2 separate regions of the Homo sapiens genome follow, and region 2 is linked to region 1. The links come from fine-mapping of genetic effects on gene expression. Tissue or cell type: whole blood. Region 1 holds a variant in brackets; the other region holds the start of a gene. All regions are shown on one strand. Distances are between the middles of the regions.

Region 1 (7,875 bases):
TTTGTCTGTTATTGGTGTATAGGAGTGCTTGTGATTTTTGCACATTGATTTTGTATCTGAGACTTTGCTGATGTTGCTTATCAGCTTAAGGAGATTTTGGGCTGAGACAATGGGGTTTTCTAAATATACAATCATGTCATCTGCAAGCAGGGACAATTTGACTTCCTCTTCTCCTAATTGAATACCCTTTATTTCTTTCTCTTGCCTGATTGCCCTGGCCAGAACTTCCAACACTATGTTGAATAGGAGTGGTGAGAGAGGGCATCCTTGTCTTGTGCCAGTTTTCAAAGAGAATGCTTCCAGTTTTTGCCCATTCAGTGTGATATTGGCTGTGGGTTTGTCATAAATAGCTCTTATTATTTTGAGATACGTTCCATCAATACCTAATTTATTGAGAGTTTTTGGCATGAAGGCTGTTGAGTTTTGTCAAAGGCCTTTTCTGCCTCTATTGAGATAATCATGTGGTTTTTGTCATTGGTTCTGTTTATGTGATGGATTATGTTTTTTGATTTGTGTATGTTGAACCAGCCTTGCATCCCAGGGATGAAGCTGACCTGATCATGGTGGATAAGCTTTTTGATACGCTGCTGGATTCGGTTTGCCAGTATTTTATTGAGGATTTTCGCATCCATGTTTATCAGGGATATTGGTCTAAAGTTCTCTGGTTTTTGTTGTATCTCTTCCAGGCTTTGGTGTCGGGATGATGTTGGCCTCATAAAATGAGTTCCCTCTTTTTATTGATTGGAATAGTTTCAGAAGGAATGGTACCAGCTCCTCTTTGTACCTCTGGTAGAATTCGGCTGTGAATCTGTCTGGCCCTGGACTTTTTTTGATTGGTAGGCTATTAATTATTGCCTCAATTTCAGAGCCTGTTACTGGTCTATTCAGAGATTCAACTTCTTCCTGGATTAGTCTTGGGAGGGTGTATGTGCCCAGGAGTTTATCCATTTCTTCTAGATTTTCTAGTTCGTTTGCGTAGAGGTGTTTATAGTATTCACTGATGGTAGTTTGTATTTCTGTGGGATCGGTGGTGACATCCCCTTTATCATTTTTTTATTGCATCTATTTGATTCTTCTCTCTTTTCTTCTTTATTAGTCTTGCTAGTGGTCTCTCAATTTTGTTGATCTTTTAAAAAAAACAGCTCCTGGATTCAGTGATTTTTTGAAGGGATTTTTGTGTGTCTGTCTCTTTCAGTTCTGCTCTGATCTTAGTTATTTCTTGCCTTCTGCTAGCCTTTGAATTTGTTTGCTCTTACTTCTCTAGTTCTTTTAATTGTAATGTTAGGGTGTCAATTTTAGATCTTTCCTGCTTTCTCTTGTGGGCATTTAGTGCTATAAATTTCCCTCTACCACACTGCTTTAAATGTGTCCCAGAGACTCTGGTACGTTGAGTTTTTGTTCTCATTTGTTTCAAAGAACATCTTTATTTCTGCCTTCATTTCGTTATTTACCCAGTAGTCATTCAGGAGCAAGTTGTTCAGTTTCCATGTAGTTGTGCAGTTTTGAGTGAGTTTCTTAATCCTGAGTTCTAATTTGATTGCACTGTGGTCTGAGATGCAGTTTGTTGTGATTTCTGTTCTTTTACATTTGCTGAGGAATACTTTACTTCCAATTATGTGGTCAATTTTAGAATAAGTGTGATGTGGTGCTGAGAAGAATGTATATTATGTTGATTTGGGGTGGAGAGTTCTGTAGATACCTATTAGGTCTGCTTGGTGCAGAGCTGAGTTCAAGTCCTGTATATGCTTGTTAACCTTGTGTCTCATTAATCTGTCTAATATTGACAGTGGGATGTTAAAGTCTCCTATTATTATTGTGTGGGAGTCTAAGTCTCTTTGTGGGTCTCTGAGGACTTGCTTTATGAATCTGGGTGCTCCTGTATTGGGTGCATATATATTTAGGATAGTTAGCTCTTCTCATTGAATTGATCCCTTTACCATTATGTAATGCCCTTCTTTGTCTCTTTTGATCTTTGTTGATTTAAAGTCTGTTTTATCGGAGAGTAGGATTGTTACCCCTGCTTTTTTTTTTTTTTTGCTTTCCATTTGCTTGGTAGATCTTCCTCCATCCCTTTATTTTGAGCCTCTGTGTGTCTTTGCACATGAGATGGGTCTCCTGAATACAGCACACTGATGGGTTGTGACTCTTTATCCAATTTGCCAGTCTGTGTCTTTTAATTGGGGCATTTAGCTCATTTACATTTAAGGTTAGTATTGTTATGTGTGAATTTGATCCTGTCATGATGTTTGCTGGTTGTTTTGCCCATTAATTGATGCAGTTTTTTCATAGCATCGATGGTCTTTATAATTTGGCAGTTTTTGCAGTGGTTGTTACCGGTTGTTTCTATGTTTAGTGCTTCCTTCAGGAACTCTTGTAAGGCAGGCCTGGTGGTGACAAAATCTCTCAGCATTTGCTTGTCTGTAAAGGATTTCATTTCTCCTTCACTTATGAAGCTTAGTTTGGCTGGATATGAAATTCTGGGTTGAAAATTCTTTTCTTTAAGGAAGTTGAATATCGGCCCCCACTCTTTTCTGGCTTGTAGGGTTTCTGCCGAGAGATCCGCTGTTAGTCTGATGGGTTTCCCTTTGTGGGTAACTCGACCTTTCTCTCTGGCTGCCCTTAACATTTTTTCCTTCATTTCAACCGTGGTGAATGTGACAATTACATGTCTTGGGGTTGCTCTTCCCAAGGAGTATCTTTGTGGCATTCCCTGTATTTCCTGAATTTGAATGTTGGCCTGCCTTGCTAGGTTGGGGAAGTTCTCCTGGATAATATCCTGAAGAGTGTTTTCCAACTTGGTTCCATTCTCCCTATCACTTTCAGGTACACCAATCAAACGTAGATTTGGTCTTTTCACATAGTCCCATATTTCTTGGAGGCTTTGTTCATTTCTTTTTACTCTTTTTTTCTAACCATGTCTTCTTGCTTTATTTCATTAATTAATTTGATCTTCAATCACTGATACCCTTTCTTCCACTAGATCGAATTGGCTATTGAAGCTTGTGCATGTGTCACGAAGTTCCCATGCCATGGTTTTCAGCTCCATCAGTCATTTAAGGTCTTCTCTACAGTGTTTATTCTAGTTAGCCATTCGTCTAACCTTTTTTCAAGGTTTTTAGCTTCCTTGCGATGGGTTCGAACATGCTCCTTTAGCTTGGAGAAGTTTGTTATTACTGACCTTCTGAAGTCTACTTCTGTCACCTCGTCAGAGTCATTCTTTGTCCAGCTTTGTTCCATTGCTGGTGAGGAACTATGATCCTTTGGAGAGGAGGCACTCTGATTTTTAGAATTTTCAGCTTTTCTGCTCTGGTTTCTCCCCATCTTTTTGGTTTTATCTACCTTTGGTCTTTGATGTTGGTGACCTACAGATGGGGTTTTGGTGTAGACGTTCTTTTTGTTGATGTTGATGCTATTCCTTTCTGTTTGTTAGTTTTCCTTCTAATAGGTCCCTCAGCTGCAGGTCTGTTGGAGTTTGCTGGAGGTCCACTCCAGACCCGGTTTGCCTGGGTATCACCAGCGGAGGCTGCAGAACAGCAAATATTGCAGAACAGCAAATATTGCTGCCTGATCCTTCCTCCGGAATCTGCATCCCAGAGGGGCACCCATCTATATGAGGTGACTGTTGGCCCTTACTGGGACGTGTCTCCCAGTTAGGCTACATGGAGGTCAAGGAGCCACTTGAAGAGGCAGTCTGTCCATTCTCAGAGCTCAAACACCATGTTGGGAGAACCACTGCTCTCTTCAGAGCTGTCAGAAAGGGACATTGAACTTTGCAGAAGTTGTCTGCTGCCTTTTGTTCAGCTAAGCCCTGCCCACTGAGGTGGAGTCTGGAGGCAGTAGGCCTTGTTGAGCTGTGGTGGGCTCTGCCCAGTTCGAGCTTCCCAGCCACTTTGTTTACCTACTCAAGCCTCAGCAATGGCTGAGGCCCCTCCCCCAGCCAGGCTGCTGCCTTGCAGTTTGATCTCAGACTGCTGCGCTAGCAGTGAGTGAGGCTCTGTGGACGTGGGACCTGCCAAGCCAGGCACGGGAGAGTATCTCCTTGTTTTCCGGTTGCTAAGACCTTGGGAAAAGCGCAGTATTTGGGCAGAAGTGTCCTGTTTTTCCAGGTGCAGTCCGTCACGGCTTCTCTTGGCTAGGAAAGGGAAATCCCCTGACCTCTTGGCTTCCCGGTTGAGGTAACACCCCACCCTGCTTCAGTTCGTCCTCTGTGGGCTGCACCCACTGTACAACCAGTCCCAGTGAGGTGAACCAGGTACCTCAGTTCAAAATG[C/T]GGATATCACCCGTCTGCTGCATTGATCACGCTGGGAGCTGCAGACCAGAGCTGTTCCTATTTGGCCATCTTGTATTTTATTTTATTTTTTGAGACAGGGTCTCGCTCTGTCACCCAGCTGGAGTGTAGCATTGCAGTCATGGCTCACTGCAACCTCAACCTTCTGGGTTTAACTGATCCTTCCATCTCAGTGCTCCCAGCAGCTGGGACCATAGGTTTGCACCACCATGCCTGCCTCATTTTTCTTTTTTTAGAGATGGGGTTTTGTCATTTTGCCCAGTTTGGTCTCAAAGTCTTAGACTCAAGTGATCCTTCTGCCTCAGCCTCCCAAAGTGCTGGGATTATAGGCATGAGCCACTGTGCCTGGCCCTAGTTCCATGGTTTTAAATTCCACCTACATACTGATAACTCCTCAGATTCTATCTCTAACCTGACCTCGTTCGTAAACTCCAGGTTGGTCTCTCTTTGGACATCTGAAAGGGATCTCAGACTTAACACAGCAAGTGGGTCTCTTGATGCCCAGCTCTTCCCCCTTTCTCTACATTGCATGGCTGGAGCCATCTCATGCTTCAGCTTTTAGCTGACATGTATCTCCCCAGAAAAGCCTTGTCGGCCCACCCCACTCTCTCCCTGTCCATTATCTATTATATCATCCTGTTTTATTTTTTGCAGAGCAGTTGTCAGTAACTCTTTTTTCTTTGGTTGTGTGTGTGTACATATATATATGTACATGTATATATTCTGTTTATGTCCCCTAGAAAAGCTTCTTGAGGGCAGAGACTTTGCCTTTGTTCACTGTTTTATCTCCTTTTCTTAGAATGGTTGCCAGAACATAGAGGGTAGTCAGTAACTATTTAACCCTGTTATCTTCCGCCAGAGTTGTAGATTCAAATTCTCACCTGTTTTTAGAAGACTTCTAAACCTTCTTAGCCTTGACTTCCTTAGTGCTAATGTTGCAGCTTTTGTAGTTCAGCAAGCGGGAGGAAATGGCACACTGGCTTTTTTTCCCCGTTGCTCAGTGAGCAGGAGGGAGGGTTGCAGTGTAAGGATTCCTTTGGTGCTGCTTCACCAGCCGGAAATCTCTGTGGGTGCTGTGTCCTCTGCCTGGGGCCTCATTCCACCGAGCTCACTCCGCCCACTCAGCCTGGCAGGCTGTGCTCGGCTTGTGCCTTGGCCTGGATCCTGCGCCCGCTGAGGGATCTGCACTCAGCCCATGGCTCCACTGGGTGTGTTGCCAGCAGCTTCTGCATTGGGTGTCGTTGTCTAGATGAGGGGAATGTGGGTGGTGCCCGAAAACTCAGAGATGTCAGTAATGGCAGAGTCCCAAGGGGTGTTACAGCTCTCATCCGGGGAGTCCCAAGATTTGACCTCCCAAGAAATGTTGCAGCTTTGTATTGTTCCTGCCACCTGCAGCTTGGCGAACAGGGGCATGTTACAGCTCAGTCGGTCCCACCACCCGCAGCTCAGTGAATGGGTGTGTGTTACAGGTTGGCCTATTCTGGGTTCTTCTCCTGCGACCAAGAGGAATAAGAGGAATAAGGTACATGGACACTGGAGAGTGAATAGGGTGGAGAAGAATTTCATTGAGCAATAGAAGGAAAGCTCTCAGCAGAGAGGGGGCCCAAGAGTGATTAGCCCTGTGTGTGAGAGGGGACCCAAAAGAGGTTTGCCATCTGTGGGGTTGAGTCTGGGATTTTTATGGGCTCAGAATGGGGGAGTGCGTGCTGATTGGTTCACGGGTCGGCTTGGAAAAAGCACCATTTGATTGCCTAAAAGGCATCGAGGAAGTTCTCACTCTCGTTGTGGACTCCACCTGCAACTGGCAGCTCAGTTTTCAGTCTTTAAACTGTCTTTGGCATGAGGTTGGGTTTCACAGGGACCCATCCCTGTCTGCCTAGGAATTTGTCTGTCTCCAGTTGCTGTCACTAAGCCACACATTGCACTGTCTCTTGGATTCATTAAGATGTCTTTCGGTTGTCTCAATCTCATATTGAGATTGAGATTGTTGACTCTATCTTCTTCCCCAAAGCCTTTTTTCCTCCCCACACCTTTAAAAATTTTTCATAAATATTTCCATCTACCCTGCGGTTCACCTCCCTTCTACCCTCTTATCCAATATGCTATTACTTGTTCTTACCTTCTTCATAGTTCCTGCGTCTTTCTCCTTTATCTAGCCATTATCTTGCTTGAGGCCCATTTTGCAAGCTGTTATCTGTCTCCACTCTGTCTAGGTGATAGTTTTTGGCTCCATAGCTTTAAATACCATCCACATTCAGATCATTCCTGAGAGTCTGTCTTCATCCTGACCACACTCTTGAACTCCAGTTTGGTTGTGGGCTTCTATGATAACATACTATCTGATTTTTATCTTACTTTTTGGCTAGACCTTGTCAATCTCATTTTCTGGATCTTCATTCTCTACTAGACTCTATGTTGTAGTGTCTAGGATTTTGTCCTTGACTCTCCTCTGTGTATCTTCCCAGCTTCCAGCTTTGGTCTGCTACCCTGATGCTCATCTTTATCAAATACAATCAAGTCATGCACTGCTTTGCTTAAAGTTCCTCAGAGGCTCCCTGCTGCCTCTGAAGTCCAAGTTCTTTATCATGGGCAAAGGCATTAAGAATGAGCCCCCTGTGTATTTCAATTTTTGCCTCTCCTCCAAAGGATCTAGAAGACCGTTATCTCTCCTTGTAGCCCCTCAACACAGAAGGCTGGGCTTTTGCTCATGCTATTTTCTTGGTGCACAGTTTTCTTTTTCCGTATTGCTTACCTCCCCTGTAAACATTTGCTCATTTAAAAAGATGAGTCAGTTGCCCCCTTTTCAGGGAAGTCTTCCGTGATACATTCAGGCAGGAGTAAGAAATTCCTTCTCTGTGTTCTCCTAGCAGTTTATTATCTTCATTATAATACTTGGTTCATTTATCCAACAGTTATTTATTGCTTGCTTGCTATATTCTGGAAACTATTCTAGGCATTGGGATTAGAACAGTAAACAAGACAGATGAGGTCCTCATTTTCAAGAAGTCTACATTACAGAGCGGAGGAAAGAGAAAAAAAAACAAGTCAACAAACTATATTATTTTAGATAGTGATTAGTGATACTAAGATAAAATAAAACCGGCCAGTGTGGTAATATGATGGAGTGTGTGTGGTGTGGAGAGGGGGAGTGGTTGTGACACTTGAGAGTGAGTGAGGTCCAGTTTGAGTTGAGACTTGAAAGATTAGAAGGAGCAATCCATACAGAGATCTGCAAGAGGTACATTCTAGGCAAAAGGAACAGTTAAGTACAAAGGCCTTGGAGCTAGCCTGAGCTTGGCATGTTTAAGGAGCACATGCAGCCTAGTGAGCCAGGAGCATAATGAGCAGGGGAAAGGAAGGAGTGCTGTCTGACATAAGGCCCAAGAGATAGACGGGGCCAGATCATGTAGGGCCTTATAGGTAAGATTTGTCAATTAGATGGGGCCAGAACATGTAGGGCCTTATAGGTGAGATTTGTCAGTTAGACAGGGCCAGATCGTGTAGGGCCTTATAGGTAAGATTTGTCAATTTTAAGTATAGCAGAAAGCCATTGGAAGAGTTTTATGTGAGGGAGTGACATGGAACTG
Region 2 (7,875 bases), 110 kb before region 1:
AATACTGTTGATACTCACAGAATTTTAAGGCTAGATCACTGAGAACCATGTAGAGCACCTCGTACAATCCCTCTGTATTATACATGACACCCAAAGAGATTGAGACGTGCCCAAATGTTTGTGGTGAAACAGGGGTAAGAATTCAAGTCTCCTTATTTCCAGTGCAGTACTATATATGATAATAATCTTCATTTTTTGCGTGTGTGTGTATATGTCTGAGGTGGAATGCCACTCTATACAATTTATAACATCTCAACTGTCCCCAAATGAAATTCGTATGTGTGGCAATTTCAGGGTTGTACATTTTTAGTGACCAAAAATATTAAATGAAATTGGCAAGAATAAAAACTGGTGCTTATGAATCACTACATGTTTTAAAGAAGTCTGTCTCTACTATATTTATTTGTTTAGTCAAGTGCTGTAATGTACAGGCTACTGTGCTTGGCAATAAGAATACTACTGTACAGTATATAAGATAGGAGTCCCTATCCTCATGGAATTTACAGCCTGGTAGAGGATATGGACAAAGAAATAGGCAATTACAATGCAGTGAGGTTAATGCTATGACAGTGGGAGTACACGATGCTATGGGAACAGGAAGCAGGGATACCTAACTCAAGCTAGACTTTTCAAAGGAGGTGATGTGAAAGATGAGTAGGAGTCAACCAGTTAAAGAAGAATGGAGTGTTCAAATGTCTCAGGAAGTACAAACTGTATTTGCACAGGAGAGTATGAAAAGACCAAGGGAGCTGCAGGAGTAGGGAGGAGAAATAAACCTAGAGAAAGAAGCAAGGACCAAATATACAGGTCCTTGACAGCCAGGGCTTTACATCCTTTTCTATTAGCATTTCCTGGTGAACTTCAAAACAAACAAAACAAAACACAGATAACTGGGATCCATCTCAGACCAATTAAATGAGCATCTCTGGGGATGAGACCAGAGTACTTTTAAAAAGCTCCCTAGATTATTCTAATGTGTAGCCAGGATTGAAAACCACTGTTCATGATGTAAAGGAAATTAAATAAAGATATTACTGCAAATATAGGAAATGGAGATCTTCAGTAATTAAGCCTCCTTGGGCCCTAATTTCTTCAGTTCTATTAAAAAACAGGCTGGAGATTAGACGCAGCATGATACAGTGAAAGGAGTCGGAAAATGTTGGTTTTGTCAATGAGTCTGTCACCTGCCAACTGACTTCAGATTAGAATACCATTTCTTAGGGATAGTAATACCACTCTGTCTACGGCACTGTTAATATAGCTCAAGGTAATACTTAAGAAAAACTATTTGATAACTGTGCTAATAAAATGTAAACCATGATATTCTAAGACATATACTTCTAAAGCTGAATAATTTTTAAGATTGTAAATACTTTCACTGGAGATGAAATATTTTATAATGCTTAAGAAACACTTCATTTAAAGAATCACCCCTATCTTGGAATTCAAGATATAAAATAACAAAATAGAGAACTGATCCTTTTAATGCTACTGTAGCTGCTCAAGAGATCAAATGGGATTAAGTTACCTCTCTTCAAATAAACAGATCAACAGAGCAAGTGCCCTTTAAATGGTAATCGTAACTGTTTAAAACTCTTTATTCAGTAAAGGGTACTTATAAGAAGCGGCACACAAAGTAAACTGGTTTAGAGAAAAAGTTATTACAGTCTACTTTATGTTGTGCATTATTTATAAGTTTGGGTTTTTTCTTTGGTTTTTTAAGGGGATACTGATTTGGGATGGAGAGGACCTTATCCTGACAGGAAGGAAGCTCTGCCACCAGAAAGGCTGTTCCACGCACAGAGCAAGCAAAACCACTGCACTTTTAGTCTCCCTTTTAAATATATCAAGGCCCATGACAATTTACACTTCCATGAAGCCATTTTTCAGTTTAAGTACAATATTTGTATTTAGTAACATCTCTTTAATGCTATAACCAATTTAGTTAAATTTTTTTAACCTTAAATAAAAACACTCTTCTATATTTACAGGTGTTTCATTTTTAATTATTTAAAACTGACAGGAATGTCTTTAAAACTTTATACGCACAATCATGCAATATTAATATTCCTTTACTTTCTTGTTATTTCCCCCATGATGCTATTATTACGATATGCTATCATTTTTAAATAAACTATTTTGTGATTTTAATAGGAAAGTACTCTAGTTTGAAAAAGCACAAGAAACTTTTGAAAAAAGCTATGAAGTTTTATTTTGTCCCAAAATGTGAGATGAAAAAACTTAAGCAAAATACCAACACACACACACACACACACACACACACACACGTAAACACACACAGTCCTCTTCAGATAATTTTGGCTGATGACACTGCAGAACAGTTAATCTGATAATTAAAAATTTCCAGAACATGTGATGTTTAGATGGAGATCTATGCTGTCAATCGGACCTCAGTGCTTCAGTTAAAAGGAAAAAAAAAAAACACCAAAAACTTAAAACCTGAATACAAAGACACGTTAAATTGTTAAGACTGTAGTTGCTTTGAAAGCAAAGTGTTTTGATTTATCCAAACTAACTTAGCAACACGGTATTTTGAGTATTTTCCAGAAGTTTTCTTAAAACACGCAATCCAGCACATAAACAAATTTTGTACGGTGCAATGTAAGCAAATACTCAGAAAAATTCAATTTCTAAGCAGGATAACATATGACCAATATTGCCCTCAGTGGTTCAAAAGTCGCAGTAGAAATAATCCCCTGAGATAACCTGGAATTTACCTACCCAAGTATTCTAAGGGGTTCTCCCCGGCCACACAAACTATGATTCAAAACATCGTTCCGAAAACCCAGGTCCTGCATGTGCACAAAGGCGCAGTGCTGGAATGAGGAAGCTTCACCAAGATGAAATCACAACTCTAATTCATTAAAGAATATGCAGACTGTTTTCTAGAAAGACCCTCTTGTTGCGCTCCCTTTACCCTACCCTTTATTTAACCATGTAAACAGTCTCAATTATTGACATAAAAAAATAGCTTTCGATTCCCAAGTCTGGTAACACGGTTGGCCACCATCACTATTCCTTTAGCATCCTAAAATAAACCCCTCGAGCCGAGGTCAAAAACACGCCGGCTGAACGTCTGGTGTTTACATAGCCCAATCCCGGGCCCTACCCTACCTTTCCGAGCCACTTAAGAGCCATGGAACAGGCATCACATAATACACTTAGTAAAGAGACAAGTCACATGAGTCAGTGTCTCAGGTCTATGAATGAAAGATCTAAGCGTTTGTCTCAGCTAAAAGGAAAAAACAACCTCGAAAGGAAGGGTGGGAGGGGAGCTGGCGGGGGTGAGGGGAGCGGTGTTCCTTCCATACCCCTGCCGGGCGATTTAAACCCAGTAAGAGGCAAACGCAGGGCCGCCAGGCTGGCGGGGCCGGAGTCCTCGGGCGTGACAGCCCCTCAAGAAAAGCTCGCGGTTTCGCGCCCGCGTCCCTTGAGCCGCAGTCCTCGCGGCAGCCCCTCCACCCGCGGGCTGGGTGGGCGTGCAGGGCGCGGGAGACAGAGCCACCGCGGCCGGGGCGGCGGCCCTGGGCGCACTTCCTCAACCTCCAGCCGCCCCGTCCCCAAAACTGGGAGTAGAAGCAAAGGAAGAGCGAGGCGGCAGCCAGAGAGAAAGGAGAGGGAGCGGCGAGCCCTCGCCTCTGCAGCTAGGAGAGGCCAGAGGCAGGCGAGGGAGAGGGTGCGGCGATCGCAGGCGAACTCCGCCGCGGGCCGACGCTGGGAGACGACCAGCCCGTAGCCTCCGCCCAACACGGCGGGCGCGCCCGGGAGTCTCCGGCACCCACCCGGTCCCCATTCCCACCGCACCCGCTACCGGCCAGTCCGCGCTCTACTCACGCTCGGGGCTCTTCCAGGCTCCGCGGCTCTAACCGCATCGGGTCCCAGCCCCGCGGGCGGCGGCGGCGGCGCCGAGGGAGAGGAGAGCGGGCGGCACGGCCCCCGCCTCCCGGCCCCTCTCCCCCGCCGCTCCGGAGCTGCCCGGCCGGGCCCGAGCCCTGCCTCGCCGGCGGCCCCAGCCCCAGTCCCAGCGGCCGCGGCAGCAGCAGCCCGACACCTCAGCGGCCGCAGCGGCGGCACCGGAACTGCCGCTTTCTACTTCTCGCTCCCTCTCCTCGCTAGCCCCCGCCACACGCCCCCGCCCCCGACTCCTTTCTCCGTCGCCCCTGTTTTTTTTTCCTTTTGTTTCCAGAATAAACTTTATTGGTCTCTTTTTCCGCTCACATCGTGTAAACAAACAACGAACTCTTCCCCACCCCCTCGGCCCCCCCCCTCCTCCGGCAGAAGAGGGTAAGAGCTGAGGAGGGGCAGAGCCTACAATCCCCCGGAAGCAGATGCGCAAAGAAGCGGAAGCGAAATTGAGGCGAGGAGGAGCAGGGAGTGGGCAAATAGGGTAACAATATGTGCTACTGCGCCTGCGTCTTGCTTTTCCGCCCGAAGTTTATGTACAGTTGGGGCTGCTCTTCTGACGTTTGTTTAATGATCCGTCTTCTGCAGTAGTGAGGGTGTTGTGTCATCCTAGGACAGCGTACGTGTAGTATATTTGTTTCTACGAGCAGCAGGCGAGCTGGGGTAGAGATATAGAAAGGAATATTGGGAGCAAGTGGGTTATTTCACTTTTACACCCATAGAGGAAACGAGATTAGTTCGGGGGTGAGAGGAGGTGCGGTGGCTAACCGCCGCTGTCAGTGGCTAACCAGCGTGGTTATGGATTCTATAATAGAAAGAATGCTTTTTACAAAGCGTTGCTGTGCGTTCTTCTGCCGACATGGTTTAAGTTGTATACCATCCCGAAGGCGGAATGCACTGTCACAGCCCTCTGCAGTCCTTTGACTCACTTCGTGGAGACCTTTTGCTATGCCCTCATTTTTTTTTTTAAATCGAATTCTGATTCGAAGCAGCTTGTAGGATTCAATTCTAACTATTCAGAAGACGTGGGGGATTTTTCGCGTAATGCCAACAGAGACTTCAGAAATGTCATATAGGCTATAGATTTGATTCAAGGTAGTGTCTTGGTGCTGCGTACCTTAGAAGTCTGTTTGCTTGAGAGTAAATCAATCTGTTGACTTTTGAGATTACTACTGATAAGGGTTCGGTACTGTGCGTTTTTCTCCCCCTACTGGTCTTTTGTTGTAATATTGGAAAAGCGTAGGAGCAGTGATTAGAAGTCTGAGATACAAGTACTCCAGCATCGGTTCCTCCTTGAATTTTTAAGTAATAGAGGGCTTGGGAAGTGACCCATCCTAGAGATGTTACAGTCCTACTTGTCCTCTAGAGCAAAACTCTGACCAATAACAGTCTTCTCGAACACCGCACGTCCGTCCATACCCCAATGGTAAATGAGATGGATCTGTTCCTCTTTGTGGTCGTAGTTTCACTTGACTGTATTTCTTTCTTTTCTGTGTTTTCTTTCTTTCGTCCTTTTTCTCCCTTTAGCTCGGATTTTCATCTCACATTCCAGGGGTTTGTGTTTCTAAATGTTTTTCTCGAACCAATGTTCTTCAACAGTTTTAGAACACTGTTACTCCAGAGTACAGATTTTTTTAAAAAAGGAACACTGAATTGCTAGTCAAAGTAAATTTTAAGGCAATATATCCCAAATTGTGTTTCAAGCACAGAGTTATATGAGATATTAATAGGTAGACCTTGGTGGGGAAAAATATACTAGGGATATTTTTCCTTATAAAATTTATTATTTATTTATTATTATTATTTTTTTGAGCCAGAGTCTCACTCTGTAGCCCAGGCTGGAGTTCAGCGGTGCAGTCTCGGCTCACTGCAGCCTCTGCCTCCCGGGTTCAAGCGATTCTTCTGCCTCAGCCTCCCGAGTAGCTGGGATTACAGGCACCAGCCAACATGCCAGCTAATTTTTGTATTTCTTAGTAGAGACGGGGTTTCACCATGTTGGTCAGGCTGGTCTCAAACTTCTGACTTCAGGTGATCCACCCCCCTCGACTTCCCAGAGTGCTAGGATTACAGGCGTAAGCCACCGCACCTGGCCTATTTGTGATTTTTAAAAATGTTTTATTTTTTGTAAAGACAGGGTCTTGCTTCGTTGCCCAGACTGGTCTCCAACTCCTGGGCTCAAGAGATTCATCTACCTCGGCCTCCCAAAGTGTTGGGATTACAGACTTCAGCCGACATGCCCAGCCTAAAATTTATTTTTTAATAAGAAAATGCTAATTACATAATATGTTTTTTGTTATGTGATTATCTGCCCCTAAGAAGTTGTGTGTCATAGCAGAAAAAGCCATACCTGGTACTTGAATGCATGACACCATTCATTGGTACAGGAGTAGCATTTACTATTCAATTCACGGTTGATAATGTTTGCCTTATATGTAAGCCATTGGTCTTAGGTGTCATCTTGCTTTCAAAGGTTTTTGCAATGTTATTCAGTGTTTAAAATATCTATATGATATAAAAATATCTGTATGATATAAGCATCTATATGACCAAACTCATCACTCAAGGATTAGGAGCTGAAAGAAGGTTTTAAAAAAATAATGATTCTCAGGCTGTAAATGAAACAAAAAATGGTATACTTCAAAATTAAATAATTGCATCCTAAGGGTTCTAAAGACGGGAGGTGAAATGTCCAGTATGTAGCTATTGTTCTATTCTAATAATCAGAATTATAATGACAGTTACTTGCCTTTTGGGTTTATTTCCATTGAAAATCATAACTGATACTCAAATATGCACCGAAACATTCTCTAATAGCGCTTAAGTCACTACTAAGCTTTGAAGTCCTTTGTAAATAAGAGTCAAGTTGATTATGTAGCAGTATACTTTAGATGTATAAAATTGCCAAGTCAAACAATAAAAACACACCAAGAGATAACGATATGAGTTACCATGTAGCACTGTTTTTTTTTTTTTTTTTTTTTTTTTGAGATGGAGTCTCGCTCTGTCACCCAGGCTGGAGTGCAGTGGCGCGATCTTGGCTCACTGCAACCTCTGCCTCCCAGGTTCAAGTGATTCTCCTGCCTCAGCCTTCCGAGTAGCTGGGACTACAGGCACGTGCCACCACGCCCGGCTAATTTTTGTATTTTTAGTAGAGACGGGGTTTCACCATATTGGTCAGGCTGGTCTTGAACTCCTGACCTCATGATCCGCCCGCCTTGGCCTCCCAAAGTGCTGAGATTACAGGTGTGAGCCACCACGCCTGACCGAGACTCCATCTTAAAAAAAAAAAAACCATACACCCACACACACATACACACACGTACTTTTAAGATTTCAGTTCTTTTCAAGTTAAGATTTGTGTTGCCCCAGAATATCTTGGTGAATGTCCCATGTGCACTTATGAAAGAATATTTTGTTTGCTATTGTTGGGCAGAATGTAGTTTCTTACCAAGTTGATGATTTTGTTAGCATTGATGTTTCAAAATATAATTGTGGATTTCTTTATTTCTCATTTCACTTCTGTGTATTTTTACTTTGTGTGTTTTGAAGCTTTGTTGTTAGATGTATACACATTTAGAACTCTTGTGTTTTGATACATTGACTCTTTTTAATCAATCTGTACTATCTCTCTTTATTCCTAGTAATATCTTTGTTCTGAAATCTACTTTGTCTGATATTAATACAGCCAGTCCAGCTTTTTTTGATTAATTTTTCCATGGTATTTTTTCCCATCTTTTTTATATCTATTTTTATATTTAAAGTGAGTTACTCGTAGACAACACGTATTAGATCTCTTTTTAAAAATTCCAATCTGACAATTTCTGTGTTTTAATTGCTGTGTTTAATTTACATTTAATGTAATTATATGGATTTAGGCTTGCCATTTTATTATTTGTTTTCTGTTTTTCCTCTATACTTTTGTTTTTATGTTTCTACTTTCCTGCTTTCTTG

The links. PIP is the estimated chance that this variant, and not a neighbour inherited with it, causes the effect.
Region 2: PIK3CA starts here. The variant in region 1 is fine-mapped to the expression of PIK3CA in whole blood (INTERVAL, PIP 0.95).

What each region holds. Positions count from the first base shown.
Region 1 is chr3:179,035,063-179,042,937 of GRCh38, reverse strand. The region is part of intron 2 of ZMAT3 (zinc finger matrin-type 3); the gene reads left to right. Among named protein-coding and RNA genes, the nearest start is that of ZMAT3, 33 kb to the left of the region's middle. The variant C/T (reference allele first, on the strand shown) is at 4,271.
Region 2 is chr3:179,144,584-179,152,458 of GRCh38, reverse strand. It overlaps PIK3CA (phosphatidylinositol-4,5-bisphosphate 3-kinase catalytic subunit alpha), which reads right to left and starts at 4,102. Exons shown (of 21, transcript NM_006218.4): 1 at 3,856-4,102. It overlaps PIK3CA-DT (PIK3CA divergent transcript), which reads left to right and starts at 4,486. Exons shown (of 3, transcript NR_125401.1): 1 at 4,486-4,543. RefSeq lists enhancers at 2,628-2,677, 3,239-3,738, 4,548-4,667, 5,278-5,387 and silencers at 3,478-3,527, 3,588-4,057.